Linked DNA regions of Homo sapiens: region 2 is linked to region 1. A link means that fine-mapping ties the variant in region 1 to the expression of a gene that starts in the linked region. Tissue or cell type: whole blood. Region 1 holds a variant in brackets; the other region holds the start of a gene. All regions are shown on one strand. Distances are between the middles of the regions.

Region 1 (8,097 bases):
CCCAGTCCTCTGCCTCTAGCCCCACCCACACCCTGCAGCCCGCCCAAGGTCTCCCAGACCTTCCAGCTCCATCCACATCAAAGGGACCTTTGAACGATCAGAAGTGTGTTCCAGCCCCCGGGGGAGACGCCACGGATGCCACAGCTTCAGCTGGCTGGCTCTGGGGTCCAGACCCTACCCCCAGAGCAAGAACCCCTCATTCACAAGACTGAGCCCATCAGACATCCTGGCACAAAGCCCAGGCTTCCGGGCTCAAATCTCAGCTGTCACTCACACTATGCTCAAGCCTCCCCATCTCTCTGCAAAAAGCCTGCTTCCTCATCTGCAAACTGGAAGCAATCATGGCATTGAGGAGGCGTCAGTGAGATGGAGCACACGCAAACGCATGTCCCCCAGCCTTGGCCCACAGCGGCAGCCACACTGTAGTCTATCCTTTTCACATGGGTGTACAGCAGGCCTGACCCATGAGGACCAAGGCCAGGGAAGAGGCAACAGCACCACAGTGCTCATGGGCCAAACTCCCAGGCCACGCAAGTCCCATCTCCAGGGGAAATCCAGGCTCCTGGACCCTGTGCTGTGACTGGAGAGGGGATAGCAGAGTCCCTTCCAAATGCTGTGGGGTGGGCCTGGGGCTGGTTTGCAGCTGTCCCTTCTCCCGCCTTCTCTCCCAAAGCAGGGTGCAGCAGCCTCGTTGATAGGGAGGGCCTTAGTTTCCCCTTCCTCTTTGCTAAGAGCCTCCCTACCCTACTCCTGCCAAAAGCCTAAGATAGAAACCCACCAGGCTGGAGGTAGTGACCAGGTTAGGCCATGGGCTGTAGCCAACTAGCCTCACCCAATATTCCAAGCCCAGGACAGGCTTTCATCTGTGCTGAGAAGCAGTTTACTTCTGTATCCTCAAATACAGCCTGGGGACTCAGTGATTTTGCATTTCTGTTTCTATCCCAATGGCTGAGGTCACAAGCTTTGGGGGAGAGAGGGCACCTGGCAGCCACTTGTCACTGGGATTCAGTCCTAGTCCTGCCTGTCACCCAAAAGCCCCAGAATGACCCAGCTTGGGTCACCTCAGCAGAGGGCAAAGGCCCGCGCTCCTCGGCCTTAGCACCCCAGCCCAGGCTGACCTGGCCTTGAATCACAGGCCCCTGGAACCGCGGGCTGAGCTGCCTGGGCCTATAAACAGGCAGCCGGGATGGGCTTTCCTGGCCCACAGTCAAAGGGCGGCCACTCACCCGCCATAGCGCTGGTGCTGGCGTGGGCCCAGCAGGAGCCGCAGTATTGGGGGATGTGCTGGTTCCGGGTGATGCTGGCATAGTTGACACCATCCACATTGCGCCAGTCCCAGCTCTTGGGCAGATCCGCTGGGGACAGGTACTCATGAGGCCGGGGGTATGTGCTGAGAAGAGATCATCCCCACCCAGATCGGTGCTGGGGCTCCCGGGGGCCGTGGGCCCAGGAAGCCCTCGGTAGGGCCCTCCCGCCTTTCCCAACACCTGAGGGCATGGGAGTGGGGCCACAATCACCAGAGGTGAGCCAGGTGTGGGCCCACCTCACACTAGGAGGCTCCAGCGCTCTCAGAATGTGAAGGAGGCAGGGCACCCCCGAAAGGAGGGAACCGGGTTGCTCCCCCAGCCATGCCGCGCCGTAAGGGCCACCCCCAGAGGCCGAGGAGGTGGGGCTGGCCTGGCTTTCTGGCCAGGTGGGGCTTGTCCAACCCCACAAACATCAGGGCTCACCCTGGATGTGGAAGAGAAGGAGCGACCCCCAAAACGAAGCGGCTGGATCTGACCTTCCAAGGCCTGTTGGCGACGCAGGGCCCCCAGGAGGCAGAGCGCGCGCCTGGCCCGGGCGATGGGCCTCCCGTCCCCCCAGGGCTGCCTCCCCGCCGGTGCCCACCTGCGCCCCAGCGGAGCCAGCCCGTCCCCCCGCAGAGGCCGGTAGCAGGTCTGTCCCCGGCGGAAGTAGAGGCCGCCCTGCGCCGCGCCCGCCAGCAGCACGAGCAGCAGAAGCGGCCGCCACCCTGGCCCGCGCCTCGCCATGGCCCCGCGCCGGCTCCTGGGTCCCGCTCCGGATCCCGCTCCGAGTCCCAGATCCCGCGCCGGCTCCCGCTCTGGATCCCGCCCCGGCCTCGGCCTCGGCCCAGCACCCGGCCGACCCCGCACTTTGGGCCCCTGCCCCGCCCGGCCCTTAAGGCTGCGGCGGCCAGGCCGGGACACTCCCCCGGGGCGGGGCTGTCCCATCGCTGCTCCTGCCCCGCCCGGTGACCCCTGCCCTCCCCGCCCGGCTCCGCGCCCCGCTCCCTCCCTGGCTCCGGGGCACCTGAACTCGCGGGCCAGGCGCGAGGTCGCCGGGCAGACCCCAGCCTGACCCCGCCGCCGGCCGCCGCCCTGAGCGCGGGACTGTCCGGCTGGACTCATTTGCCGGGGTTCCTGGCTTCGGGGTGGGGGGCCGCAGGCTCATGGGCCCCCTTGGCCCTGCATTCCTGGGGCCCTGAGCCCTGGGGAGAGGCCCCCAGCCTCACATCTGGGCCCAGGCCTCCCCTAGGAAGGGATCCTGGGATGCGGCCACCGCCCCCAAAGAAGGGTCCCCGCGCCTGGCTTTCTAAACCCCTTTTCCCAAAGGCCCAGGCCCTTTCGGGGGGACGGTTCCCTTTTGCAGAGAAGGAAGGAGGGATCCTTCTAGAAAATGCCCCAAAGGAAGATTCCACTTGGCGCAGGCATCAGGAGTTATCCAATGTGACTTCCAAAGACGCCTTGAAAAGGTTTTCTGCTAACGAAACTCTTCTTAGTCAAATGAGGAACCAAAAGCAGAAGTGGCCCCCCAGGACGTGGTTTTGTAACTGGGGGAGGGCTTCTCGCTCCCTGCGGCCCCTCTGTTTGTCATGGCCCTTGGGCCCACACCATGGCCTTCTTCTCTGGTAAGAACAGGGCCCGGCATTCTGGGCTGCGACCTGACAGGCCCCTGCTGGGGGCCCTTGGCACAGGGCCCACAGATGAGCTTGCCTGACTCTCTCCATACTCAGTGGCACTCACCACATTCCAAGCGTGCCACGTGGGCAAGGGGAAGTCACAGTGGCTGCCTCCTGACTTCCAGAAGCTTCCATGACCATTCCCGGAAGCGCTGAGGTGGCCATGGAATCCCCGCATGACTGTCCGAGTGGAGAGCAAGGCTGGAGAGCTGCTTCGTCAGCCCAGAAGTTTCAGTCCTTGTTCCCCAAAAAGTGGTCACTGAGGCAAAGTGTGGCCCCGGGGCTCTACCTACTGATGTGTCTCTTATTTGTTTGGCAAGTCGCTCATGGAAACCATTAGTGTCCATCAGTCATCAGAAGGCGGGGTGGGGTGGCCATCCTGGGAGAAGTCCCCAAGCTTGAGCTGGCGGTGGGGGTGGGAGCGAGGCCTCCCAACCTCTGGGCATAAAAGGAGTGGAAAGAGAATTGCCAAGAGGGGGCCTTTCTTCCTCCCATGTCAACCCTCTGGCCTCCCTGACTATAGGAGCTGGGTCCTTGTGAGGAAGAAACCCAGACACAGCTGCCCTTGCCAGGTCATCAGGTGGCATCTACCAAAGCGGCCGGTTTTTGGCTTCTTCTAAAGAAAAAGCTAAGAACTCACAAAATTGTGTGGTAAGAGATATCGTGCCCCTCCCTCCAGGTACCCATAGTTATGATCCAGGTACTGTGAAGTCCAACAGCACATTCTACAGCATGAGAAACAAGCCTGGAGAGGGGAGGGCCCCTTGTGCTTGGCCTCTGATGCCTGAGCTGTGATGTCCTGGGCCCTGGTCCCTGAATCTGGGTGAAAAGGCACCCAAGGTGTAAGCTTTTCTTTCCTGTAGCATGGGGAGAGCTGGGGTGCTCTGAAGATGCCCCGAGACTCTCCGAGCAGGTCCAGCGCATGTAGAAGGTATGACAGGCATGGTCAGCAAGGCAGGCACACGACCCCTGCAGTCACATGAGGCCCTAAGTCCAGAAGTGTAATGCAGAGCTGAACGAGGGGCTCTCCAGGTTCACTGTGCCCTGGGCCCTGCAAATTATGTAGCTGGGTCTGATGACAGCAACCACACCTGCTCCATCACAAGTCCTGTACATCACCCGCTTTCAGCCCAGAGCCTCTGGCAAATCAAACTCACAAACAGGGGTCAGGAGGAGGGGTGAGATGGTCAGGAAGGGGAATAAACATTCACAGTCCTGCTCCCAAATGCTGGCACAAAGCTTAATTTATCTGGGGAGTTCCAAAGAGGAGACT[C/T]TCCGGATTTACCCTATTGAAAGTTGGTTAAAGGGAAGGATATTTTTAGGCTGGTAACAAAAAGGACGTCCAAAGTTGACAACTTGTGCCCCCTGGGTTTCCCTAACATAGAAGCAATTCAAGATCAGAATCTGATGGAATAGGGCAGGAAGAGAGGGAGGGAGCCTATCCATTTGAAATCATCATTTACTTTTTCTTTTCTTTTTTTTTTTTTGGAGACAGAGTCTCGCTCTGTCACCTGGGCTGGAGTGCAATGGAGCAATATCGGCTCACTGCAACCTCCACCTCCTGGGTTCACGCAATTCTCCTGCCTCAGCCTCCTGAGTAGCTGGGATTACAGGCACACACCATCACACCTGGCTAAGTTTTTGTATTTTTAGTAGAGATAGGGTTTCACTACGTTGGCCAGACTGGTCTCGAGCTTCTGACCCCGTGATCCTGCCGCCTCGGCCTCCCAAAGTGCTGGGATTACAGGTGTGAGCCACCGCGCCTGGTCTGAAATCATCATTTTCAAGCCAAGAAGGAAGGAAGGGGGCCTGATGAGACTTATCTCTCCAGCCTCTTCTCATGGGTCCAACACAGCAAACCACGCAGAGACAGGGCTCCTCATCTCTGAACCTGGCCCTAGTCGAGTGGATGCATGTCTGGCTGCCAGACTGCTCCGAGAAGCTGGCGGGCTGTGTCATTTTGGGGGTTACTAAAATCGTGCAGCAGAGGATCCTAAATAGGATTTTTGGTTTTCTTGGTTTTGGGGTTTTTGTTGGTTGTTTTTGTTTTTCCCTTAACTCGATGCAAGATCTTAAACATGTTCCTTGTGGGGGCGGGGTTGGGGATGGCCACAAACCCACCCAAACTCAAATTCCAGTGCTGCTATTAGTGAAGGATGTTTAGCTGGAGGAGTTCTCTGAAGGGCACACAGATAAAACCAGGAGGTGTCTGGGACTGGAAAAAGAGGAGGGAGCACATTGGGAACCTGATAGACAGGCCACCCCAGCCATTTCTTGCTGGGGACTGCTTGCTGGGGGTTGAGTTTAGCCCCAGAGCTGTGTCTCTCTCTTCAAAGCAGACTCACCTGCAGAGCAGCTTGGGGACTCTTGGAAACCGGAAAGGTGTTTCCTCCTGACTTGGCTGCAGGTGCCTGCAAGGTGGTTTTGTGGATACTGACTCTTCTTCTCATCTGGGCCGGGATCCGAAGAGGCTTGGGGCAGGGCACTTGGACCTTCCTACCTCTGAGGCCCTACTTGCCTAAGCATTGCTTCTAGCAGCTCTTTATAAGCAGCTGTGTGCCACCGCCTTCCAGCTTGGGGCAGAATTGAGTAGGTATTTAGAGCAAGGCGTCTCCCCTGAAACCACTTTGCCTGGAAAGCTTGGCACCTATCCTGGGTTTTCCTTCCTGGAGGTAATGGAGTCATTCCTGCTCCCAGTGGTGCTTGAGGGCAGAGGGCTGAGCCAATGACATTCTAGAGGACTGTGCAGCCGCATTTGATCCTTTGCACAATGCTGTGAGGTGGGGGTGGGGGTTGGGAGGCAGATGCTATTACTCCATTCTACTGGCGAAAAGACTGAGCCTCTGGAGATGTCAGGTGACCTGTGCTCAGCACGAGGCTCCTGGGTGGCAGGTTCCAATCCAGTCCCTTTTTTTTTTTTTTTTTTTAACCCCATGAATTCTCCTGGAAAACACATGATCCAAGGCCACAGACACAAAAGCCTATTCATTTCTAAAAATAAGGCTGATTTTTCTCCTCATTCTGATAAAGATCAGCACTCAGGCCACGGCTGGCCCACCTTCCCAACCTGGAGGAGGAGAACACAGATGAGTTTTCATCGACTGTGGAATGGCCTCGAAATCCTTTTTCTTCTTCCTTTGTGCCATATTGTCTGGCTTCCACCCCGGCAAGCTGCAGACATTTCCTATTATTCCACATTCCTGAGTTTAGCCACATCCTGGATACCGGCATTTGTTTGGGTGGATGCCGACAATGCTCGCTAGGCTAGGCTGGTTTTGCAGGGCACGACGGTTCCCTCACCAGCTACAGGAGTTCCTCTTGATCCACTTGGTCAACGGGTCAGAGGCACTCGCTAACACCCAGATATCTCTGCAGTGCAGGCCTTCAGATAGGGCGGGCCAGGTTTGCAATCCACCATGCCACTGTCCCCAAGCACCACCATGCATCACATCCTGGCCTGGTTGTGTTATGGGAAAGGGGATCCCAACCCAGATCCCAAGAGAGGGTTCTTGGACCTCACGCAAGAAGGAATTCGGGGAAAGTCCATAAAGTGAAAGCAAGTTTATTAAGAAAGCAAAGGAATAAAAGAATAGCTCCTCCACAGGCAGAGCGGCAGCACGGGGTGCTCAGCTATTTATAGTTACTGTTACTTCTTCATTATACACTGAACAAGGAGTGGATCATTCATGAGTTTTTTGGAAAGGGGTGGGCAATTCCAGGAACTGAGGGTTCCCCCGCTTTGTAGACCATACAGGGTAACTTCCTGATGCTGCTGTGGCATCTGTAAACTGTCATGGTGCTGGTAGGAGTGTCTCTTAGCATGCTAATGCATTATAATTATCATATAATCAGCACTGAGGACAACCAGAGGTCACTTTCATCGCCATCTTGGGTTTGGTGGGTTTTGGCTGCCTTCTTTATCACATCCTTTTATCAGCAAGGTTTTTTGTTTGTTTTTGTTTTTTGAGACAGAGTTTCGCTCTTGTTACCCAGGCTGGAGGGCAATGGCACAATCTTGGCTCACTGCAACCTCTGCCTCTTGGGGTCAAGTGATTCTCCTGCCTTAGCCTCCCGAGTAGCTGGGATTACAGGTGCCTGCCACCATGCGTGGCTACTTTTTTGGCTTTTTTTAGTAGAGACGGGGTTTCACCATGTTGGCCAGGCTGGTCTTGAACTCCTGACCTCAGGCGATCCACCCGCCTCAGCCTCCCAAAGTGCTAGTATTACAGGCCTGAGCCACCGTGCCTGGCCTATTGGCAAGGTCTTGGTGACCTGTACCTTGTGCCGACCTCCTATCTCATCCTGTGATGTAGAATGTCTAACCTCCAAGGAATGCAGCCCAGGAGGTCTCAGCCTTATTTTACCCAGTCTGTATTCAAGATGGAGTCGCTCTGGTTCAAACGCCTCTGACAGTTGCACAGTGACTGGTGGTGCACACTTGCTTGGGAGTGGATGTGGCTCCTTGGGCTGACATTGATGAAGGCAGCCTCATCAGTATCACCTTTGGGACACACCCTGTGCAGCACAGCATGTAACAGACACAGCCCACCCATGAACTCACCAGGAAGTCTTTCAAAGGGGCACTCAATGACTACCCGATTGAATTTGTTTGCCCTCTAAAGTTAGGCTGTCAGCAAATATTTGTTGAGCACCTAGTACGTGCAGGCTACTGTTTTCTTCCCCGGGGATTCGGCAGTGAACAAAGTCCCTGTCTGCAAGGACTTATGTTTTCTGCATAAGGGAACATGTGGAAAAGTAAAATGCTCAGGAGGTAGGAAGTGCTTGCAAACAGTTAAAACGGGGAACAGGAGAGACGGAGGGTCTCTGGAGAAGTTTGGTCTGGGACCATTCTTTTAGGTATCCAGTGAGTTGGGATTGAATAATGACAGTCATGGAAGGTGCTGGAAGGAGACTCAGCAGAAGGAAGAGTGTCTGCAGAGGCCTGAGAATGTGAGTGCACTGGGTAAGTGTGTGATGCACTGGGGAAAGCCCTTGGGGAGGCTGCGGACAGGTGGGCTCAGCCTCCAAGCTGCAGGGACCATGCGGGCACTCAGGCCAGCTTCACACGGCCAGCCCACCTCTCCCCTTCCCTCCCCTTTCTGCCATCTGACAGAGGCTCTGCTGGCCTCCTTCAT
Region 2 (8,102 bases), 27 kb before region 1:
CCGCTTTCAATTCTGGCACTATTTTTTAAAAAATCTAAGAGGAGAGGTAGGAGGAGTTTAACAGCCATCTATTCTTTCCAACATTTTGAGAAAGCAAGTGAAAATGAACCCTGAAACAAGCCAACAGCAGGGGCACTCATTAACTTAATACACTTTAATCTTGTGAATAGAAGCTGGAGCTGGATCCTTTGAATCGGAGCTGCAGACTTCCACCTCCAACCACCTGCAGGACATCTCCGCATGGGTGTTCTGTTGGCACCTCTAACTCAGCACAACCCAATGAACTCATTATCATCCCATGGAGAAACCTGCCCTCCTCCTGGGTTCCCTGTCTCAGCCATGGGCCATCCCCAGGCACACAAGCTGGGGGTCACAGCAGCATCTTCCCTGCCCCTGTTCCTGGCCCCCATCTCCCACCCCCAAGGCTGTTGTATCCTCTGGACTTGACCCCAACTTCACAGCAGTTAGCCACAGCTCCTTCTCAGCAACCCCCTCCATTAATGCTCACGGAAGCTTCTTAATTTACATTCTCACCTTCTCACTTCCTTCTGTAAGGCCCCCTCAGCTAGGAGAAATGCCTTTGAAAATTCAGATATGTCCTTTCACCCGCTCAGAGCAAGAAAAAAAAAATCCAAACGTTTCATCTTCCTCATAATGATGCATACTTGCTGAGCACCTACCATGTGCAAGCTCTCTGCTCAGTGCTTGGCATACCTCATTACATTCAATCCTTAGAGATGGCCCTCAGTTAATACAGACCTAACTCCCTCCCAAGATCTGGCCCTCCCTGCCTTGCCCACCTCATCTAGATTTCTCCTTGGCCTGCCAGGTGCCGCTCTCAGTGGCCTTTCTGTTCCAAGTACGCATGCCTGGCCTTTGCCCTGGCAGTTCTGCTCTCTGGAAATGCTCTTGCCTGGGTCTTAGCTAGCTTGCCCCTTTCATGACATGACTCAGTTCAAATGTAAGCTGCTCAGCAGCCATCTCTGATCTCCCCAAGAAGATTCTATTATCACAGAATACTAGCACTGATCACCTTCTGTCTTTATCTTATTTGTTCCCCCCACCCCCTCCCCCCATTCAGCTCCTTCAGTAGAATGTAGGCTCTACCCGGACAAGGATCAGGTCCAACTTGTTCACCGAGCTCCAGGGAGCAGCGCAGTGCTGGGCACTTAGGGAACACTCAATAAACATTTGTTGAATAAATGAAGACATATTCCCTGATAAGTTCTCCAAAAGTAGTCACTATTATCAATCTTCTGGAGCTCTTTTCTCTAATACTCTTTCCTTACTGACATGGGCATTACCTTTCTTTTTTTTCTTTATAGACAGGGTCTCACTTTGTCACACAGGCTGAAATGCAATGGCACGACCATAGCAAACTGTAACCTCAAACTCCTGGGCTGAAGCAATCCTCCTGCCTCAGCCTCCCGAGCAGCTAGGACTACAGGCGTGCATCACCATACCTGGCTGGGGGCGGGGGAAGGGGGGGGGCGGTGTCTCGCTATGTTGCCCAGGTTGGTCTCAAACTCTTGCCTCAAGCAATCCTCCCACCTTGGCCTCCCAAAGTGCTGGGATTACAGGTGTGAGCCGCGGCGCTCAGCCACGGGCGTTACCTTTCAAAGCATCCAGATTTTATGGCGTTAATCTCCCTGTTTAAAATTTTCTGTGATTTGGACACAAAGATGGGAACAACAGACATGGGGTATTCCAAAAGGCAGAAGGTGTGGAGGGGGGTAAAGGCTGAAAAAGTTGCCGAAAGGATTAGAAGCATCACGCAATATACCAATGTAACAAACCTGCACACGCACCGAATCTAAAATTAAAACAAAACAAAAACACAACAACCAAACAAAAACCTTTCCGTGATCATCAGGAGGCTGTCATATTCTCACCCCCTACTTCACGCTGGGAATCGAGCTGCGGGCTTTACAACAGCGTCAGCTGCTCCCTTTGGCAACGACCAGAGAGGTCCTTTCTCCAGAGATTTTTGTCAGCTCTGGGCACTTTTGCTTTGTGGGCCTATCTTCCACTTTATAAAAAATTAAAAATGCTACTTTCCACTGCATTCAGTACTTTTTCTTCTCTTTTCTTTTTTCTTTTCTTTTCTTTCTTTCTTCTTTCTTTCTTTTTCTTTTTCTTTTTTTTTTTTTTTTTGACACAGTTTCACTCTGTTGCCTAGGCTGGAGTGCGGTGGTGTGATCTTGGCTCACTGCAACCTCCACCTCCTGGGTTCAAGCGGTTCTCGTGACTCAGCCTCTTGAGTAGCTGAGACTACAGGCGCCCGCCACCATGCCCAGCTAATTTTTGTGTTATTAGTAGAGAAGGGGTTTTACCATGTTGACCAGGCTGGTCTCGAACTCCTGACCTCAGGTGATCCGCCCGCCTCGGCCTCCCAAAGTGTTGGGATTACAGGCGTGAGCCACCGTGCCCTGCCCTTTTTATGTATGTATTTATTTATTTGAGATAGGGTCTCGCTCTGTCGCTCAGGCTGGAGTGCAATGGTGCGATCTTGGCTCACTGCAACCTCCGCCTCCCGGGTTCAAGCGATTCTCCTGCCTCAGTCACCCGAGTACCTGGGATTACAGGCGCATGCCACCACGCCCGGCTAATTTTTGTATTTTGAGCAGAGACGGGGTTTCACCATGTTGGCCAGACTGGCCTCGAACTCCTGACCTCAAGTGATCCGTCAGCCTCGGTCTCCCAAAGTGCTGGGATTACAGGCGTGAGCCCCCACGCCCGGTCGCGTTTAGTACTTTTTACCAAAACTAAAAGAAATTAAAACACTTTCGTGGGTCCTGGACACTTCCGGAAGGATTTGTTTCCAGCTGCCAGATGAGGAAACTGGGGCTCGCAGAGCCGGCGCCGCAGGGGAGGGGCTGTGCACGAATCCAGTGGGAAACCTCTCTCCGGAGCTAAGCCCCTGGTCCACCCGGGCATCGCTCCGGGATCGACTGGGGGCGTTCCTTCCGCCGGTCCCCTTTGTTCCCAGTGCCGAGCCCGCGGCCCTGCCCTTCCTCCAGGCCCCGCCCCTTCTTCCAGGCCCCGCCTCCCGCCCGGGCCGAGGCGCGCGGCCGCGCGTGCGCCCGCCCGCCCGTCCCCGCCTCGCGCATGCGCCGCGCTCGCTCGCGGGAGGGCATGGCGGGGGCCGTGCCGGGCGCCATCATGGACGAGGACTACTACGGGAGCGCGGCCGAGTGGGGCGACGAGGCTGACGGCGGCCAGGTGAGGCGGGGCACTGGGCGCACCCTAGAGAGAATCGTTCGTCTCCGCCGCCGGCGGGCCGGCCCCACTCCCGGAGAGGCCGCGCGGCGCGAGGCTGCGGGCGTGCGGGGGGTGTGCGCGCGCACGGCCCGCGCGGTCACCGTGTGGTTCAAGCACAGCCCGCCCCGCCCCCGCCCGCCCGGGGTCCCGCGGCGCGGCCGCCGGGGTCCCCGCCTCCTCGCCTGCAGGACCTTGGGGTGGGGGTGAGGCGCCGGAGGCTCTGGCGCGGGGCGGCCCGAGGCCCCCAGTACCCCCTCGCTCCGGCCAGGCCCGGCGCCGGCCCTGCGACCCCCGCGGCGGGCGGGACACCAACGCTAAGGTGGAGGGTTGGGTCCGGAGCTCACAGACTTTTAAACAAAAATAAAGTGGAAAAACTTCACAGCAGCATCATGAGGAAAAAGTAGAACTTAGGGCATTCCTACATGTGCTTTACTGTTTTATAAACTGTACTCTTCAGCACCTTGGGCTGATTTCATCTGTTTTTGGGCAAACTGATGGAAAGGATTTTCGGGCCTTGACCTTCCAGGGTTTGGGGTGGAAGCCCAGGAGGGATCACTGTTCCACCCTGAGGACAGGGACTGCAGAGCCAGGGCAGGTAGCTCTAGTCTGGACAGTGTGTCCCCACCTTACTCTAAAGACCCAACTGAGGCGCATGATTGAAATGTAGCTTCTCACGTCCCTCCCCTGGAGACGGCCCAACAGTTGGTCTGGACGGGAGCCTGGGAACTTGCATTTTTTTTTTTTTTTTTTTTTTTTTTTTTTTTTGTGGTGGAGTTTCGCTCTTGTTGCCCAGGCTGGAGTGTAATGGCGCCATCGCGGCTCACTGCAACGTCTGCCTCTCGGATTCAAGCGATTCTCCTGCCTCAGCCTCCCGAATAGCTGGGATTACAGGCACCCACCACCATGCCCAGCTAATTTTTAAAATTTTGAGTAGAGAGGGGGTTTCACCTTGTTGGCCAGGCTGGTCTCAAACTCTTGACCTCAGGTGATCCACCCACCTCTGCCTCCCAAAGTACTGGGATTACAGGCGTGAGCCACTGCTCGTGGCCCAGGAACTTGCATTTTTAACAACAATCAAGATTGGGGATGTCTGGTGCATTTTGAAGTGGTATTATAAGGGAATAAAGGATGAAGTGGGGCTTACGTTGATAAACATGGGTGGTGGTGTGATGGCGGCTTCGGAGCCATGGTCTAAAATGCCAAGGCGGGCGATGTGTTTCTGGAACTGAAAGAAGCCCTGTGATGTTAGCTGCCTGGTGGAAGCAGTGGCAGGAGGTCAGTAGGGAGCAGGTTCTGAAGATCCTTGGAGAGCTGCTGAATGGTATGGCTTGTTCAGGAGTTTGGGGCAGGGAGTGACACGAGTAGATTTGCATGTTGGATCATTTCACAGTGTTGGAGGCTTAGGGTGGAGTGGATAGAGTCAGACTTAGCTAACTGAGAGCTTGGGCCATGTGTGTCATGCGTTATCCCCTTCCACACACAGGATTTTGAGTTGGGTGTTACCCTACTTATCTGGTAAGTGTAGAAAATGAGACGAAAAGACTTACTGACCTGCCCAAGGTCATGAAACTAATAAAGGAAGGAGAGGGGACCCAAACCCACATCCTTTGCCTCCGTTGCCACTTCGTCAAATTGCTGACTACCAAAGTGGTCCAGATGAGAAGGTGTGAATTAGCTTAGTGGTAGGTTGGTGTTTGGGGCATCTAGTATATCACCTTGAGCCTTTTTTTCTTTTTTTTTTTTTTTGAGACAGAGTCTCGCTTAGCTGCTCAGGCTGGAGTGCAGTGGCTTGATCTCAGCTCGCTGCAACTGCCATCTCCTGGGTTCAAGCAATTCTCCCGTCTCAGCCTCCTGAGTAGCTGGGATTACAGGCATCCGCCATCATGTCCGGCTAATTTTTGTATTTTAGTAGAGACAGTGTTTCACCACGTTGGCCAGGCTAGTCTTGAACTCCTGACCTCAGGTGATCCGCCTGCCCCGGCCTCCCAAAATGCTAGGATTACAGGCGTGAGCCACCGCACCCGGCCTTTTTTTTTTTTTTTTTTCTTTGAGACGGAGTCTCACTCTGTCACCCAGGCTGGAGTGCAGTGGTGCCATCTTGGCTCACTGCAACCTCCACCTCCTGGGTTCAAGTGATTCTCCAAGTAGCTGGAATTACAGGCCGGTGCCACCACACCCGGCTAATTTTTGTATTTTTAGTAGAGATGTGGTTTCACCATGTTGGCCAGGCTGGTCTCGAACTCCTGGCCTCAAGTAATCTGCCCGCCTCCGCCTCTCAAAGTGCTGAGATTACAGGTGTGAGCTACCGTGCCCGGCCTCACCTTGAGGCTTTGAGTCATAAAGTGTTAGAACTGGGGCATATAAGGGCCATCTAATCAGTACCTTCACTTTATAGACCAAGCACGTGAGTTATTTGCCCAAGTTTGTGCAGTCAGACCTAGACCCCACTGATGGGAGATTGGGGAGTCTCATGTTTGGGGAATTTTAATCATGATCCTAATTTGGCCCACTGACACCAGTGGGCTCTCATGGATGAGGGGGGTGGACCAGACGTTCATTTCATGTTTATTCTGTGACTCTGCTTGGAAGAGGTACAGAAAGTTAGGAAAGGTGTTAGGAGGGTGGCAAGAACTGGATTTTAAAAGATAGTTGGTGACCCAAATTCTGTTCGCCTGATGCCATGTTACATAGTGGGAGGTAGGAAGATGTGTAAGGAGGCCACCGTGATGTTCAGTCTGGATGGTGGAAACTAAGAGCTGCAGACATGCAAATAGATGAGTCCTGCTACAGATTGCAAATGGGGAGTGGTGAGAGGTCAGAACGGACAGGGGAAGTGGGAAGGGCACGCTCTTGCTAGAGCTGGGGCGTTTTTTCCTGAAGGAGATGGGAATCTTTAAGCAGGAGAGAGACGTCAGTTTTGTGGCTTACAAAGATCACTGTGGCCACGGTGTGAAAGATGATTGAAAGGAAGGAATAAGACTGAGACTTCAGGGGAATGTTGCTACTGCAAGCATACAAAAAATAAGGAAGAGCAGAGGCAAATGTGGAAAGAAGGACCACCTTGGATAGACAGATGGGAGATGGAACTGATGAGTCTTTGTGACAGGATGTGGGGGTGGGGTGAGGGAGAGAAGCTGAGGATGATTTTCAGGTTTGGGGGGTAACAAGTAGATATATGAAGGATACCTTTACGGAAATATGGGTTGTAGGAAGAAGATCTGTTTCTAGGGAAGAGATGTCAGTTTTGGACCTAAAGAGTTTGGATACTTGTGAGACATCTGACTGGAAATGAGAATGGAATGTTGGATACCTGAGTCTGGAGCTTAAGAGAGGAAAGACGGAGAGAGAGATCCAGGCTAATTCTAGATTGGTGAGCAGGTAGATAGCATGACCCAAGAGGTGGTGGAAGAGGCAGGTAGGTGAGTGCCCAGGGTGGAAGCCCAAGAGAACAGACAACGTGGGAATGAAGCTCGGGGTGAAGTCCGGCCTCTGTCATGCCCTTAGGGGCTCAGCGTTCCCCATGCAAATCTGGTCTGAGAGAAGACTCCACAGCTTTTACTGGGAAGTCATCGGGTTCTGTCTGCTCCCAAAGCACTGCTTTTAGGATCTTAGTCCAGATCAGGAGTGAGCAAACTTTTCTGAAAAAGGCTAGATAGCAAATATTTTAGGTTGTGCCTGTCTCTGTCTTAACTACTTACCTCTGCCCTTACAGGGGGAAAGCAATCATAGACAGTCCTTAAAAGAATGGGTGTGCTGTGTTCCGTAAAAGTTTATTTGCAAAAATAGGAGAGGGCTGGATTCGGCTCTGGGTCATAGTTTGCTGACCCCTGGCCCAGCTCTTGCCCCATTATGTTAGAGTAGGTTGCATGGAGGTCTGTCTCTCCTATTAGTTTGTGAACTTCTTTGATGGAAAAAGCCTTGTCTTGTCTTACATTTTCTTAGGTTCCTTGGTTGATGAGCATAGTGCAGACTGAATGTTCAAAAAGCATCTGCTTGTTAGTTAGGGTGGCAGTGTTAAAGTTGGACAGGGTTTGGGATCACAGTCCATCCTCACATGGTCATTAGCAGGTGAAGAAGCCTGCTTTGCCCTTAGATGGAGTGACAGGCCTGAAGTTGCTTCCACATAGAATTGGGACTGGAGTCCAGCCAGAAGTGTGGATGCAAGGCGAGTTAGTGGTCTTTACTTTCTAATGGTAAGTGATGGCTCACGCTTTCAAGAATCAGGTTGTTACTCTTCAGTGGCATGTATGAAATAAGAATAGTGAAAACAATAATAATAATAGTTTACTATTTATTGCACTGTTACGAAATGTCAGGGATTATGCTGGGTTCTTCCAAAAATTAGCTCATGGAATCCTCACAACAGCCAAATGGGAATAGGCGTTATTATTATCTTCACTTAACAGAGGAGGAAATGGACACTCAGAGAGGTTGGGTAACTTGTGTGAGCATGGAACGCGGTTTGCCAGGGAGGAGTTGTACACACCCACTCAGTGTGATCCTGGATCCCATTTTCCTAGCCACTCACTATCTGTCCAGCCCATTTCATGAAATTGTCATGAAAGTCAAATGAAATAATGTGTGTAGAATACTTTCAAAATGGGCAGCATTATACGATTTAAGGTGAGATTAGGGTATTTGTATTAATGAAAAAAATATCCTGGCTCTTCGCATTTACCAACAGCAGGAGGATGATTCTGGAGAAGGAGAGGATGATGCGGAGGTTCAGCAAGAATGCCTGCATAAATTTTCCACCCGGGATTATATCATGGAACCCTCCATCTTCAACACTCTGAAGAGGTATGTGAGAAAGGTGTCTGTATTGGGAGGAGGCTGGGGGT

Evidence for each region. PIP is the estimated chance that this variant, and not a neighbour inherited with it, causes the effect.
Region 2: it holds the start of NELFCD, and the variant in region 1 is fine-mapped to the expression of NELFCD in whole blood (TOPMed, PIP above 0.99).

The regions. Positions count from the first base shown.
Region 1 is chr20:59,005,096-59,013,192 of GRCh38, forward strand. It overlaps CTSZ (cathepsin Z), which reads right to left and starts at 2,159. Exons shown (of 6, transcript NM_001336.4): 1 at 1,891-2,159; 2 at 1,227-1,390. The coding sequence starts at 2,033. RefSeq lists enhancers at 1-262, 1,411-2,222, 2,903-3,062, 3,083-3,192, 3,333-3,412 and a silencer at 1,843-2,442. The variant C/T (reference allele first, on the strand shown) is at 4,236.
Region 2 is chr20:58,978,148-58,986,249 of GRCh38, forward strand. It overlaps NELFCD (negative elongation factor complex member C/D), which reads left to right and starts at 3,109. Exons shown (of 15, transcript NM_198976.4): 1 at 3,109-3,222; 2 at 7,946-8,061. The coding sequence starts at 3,163. RefSeq lists a silencer at 2,965-3,444 and an enhancer at 3,367-3,867.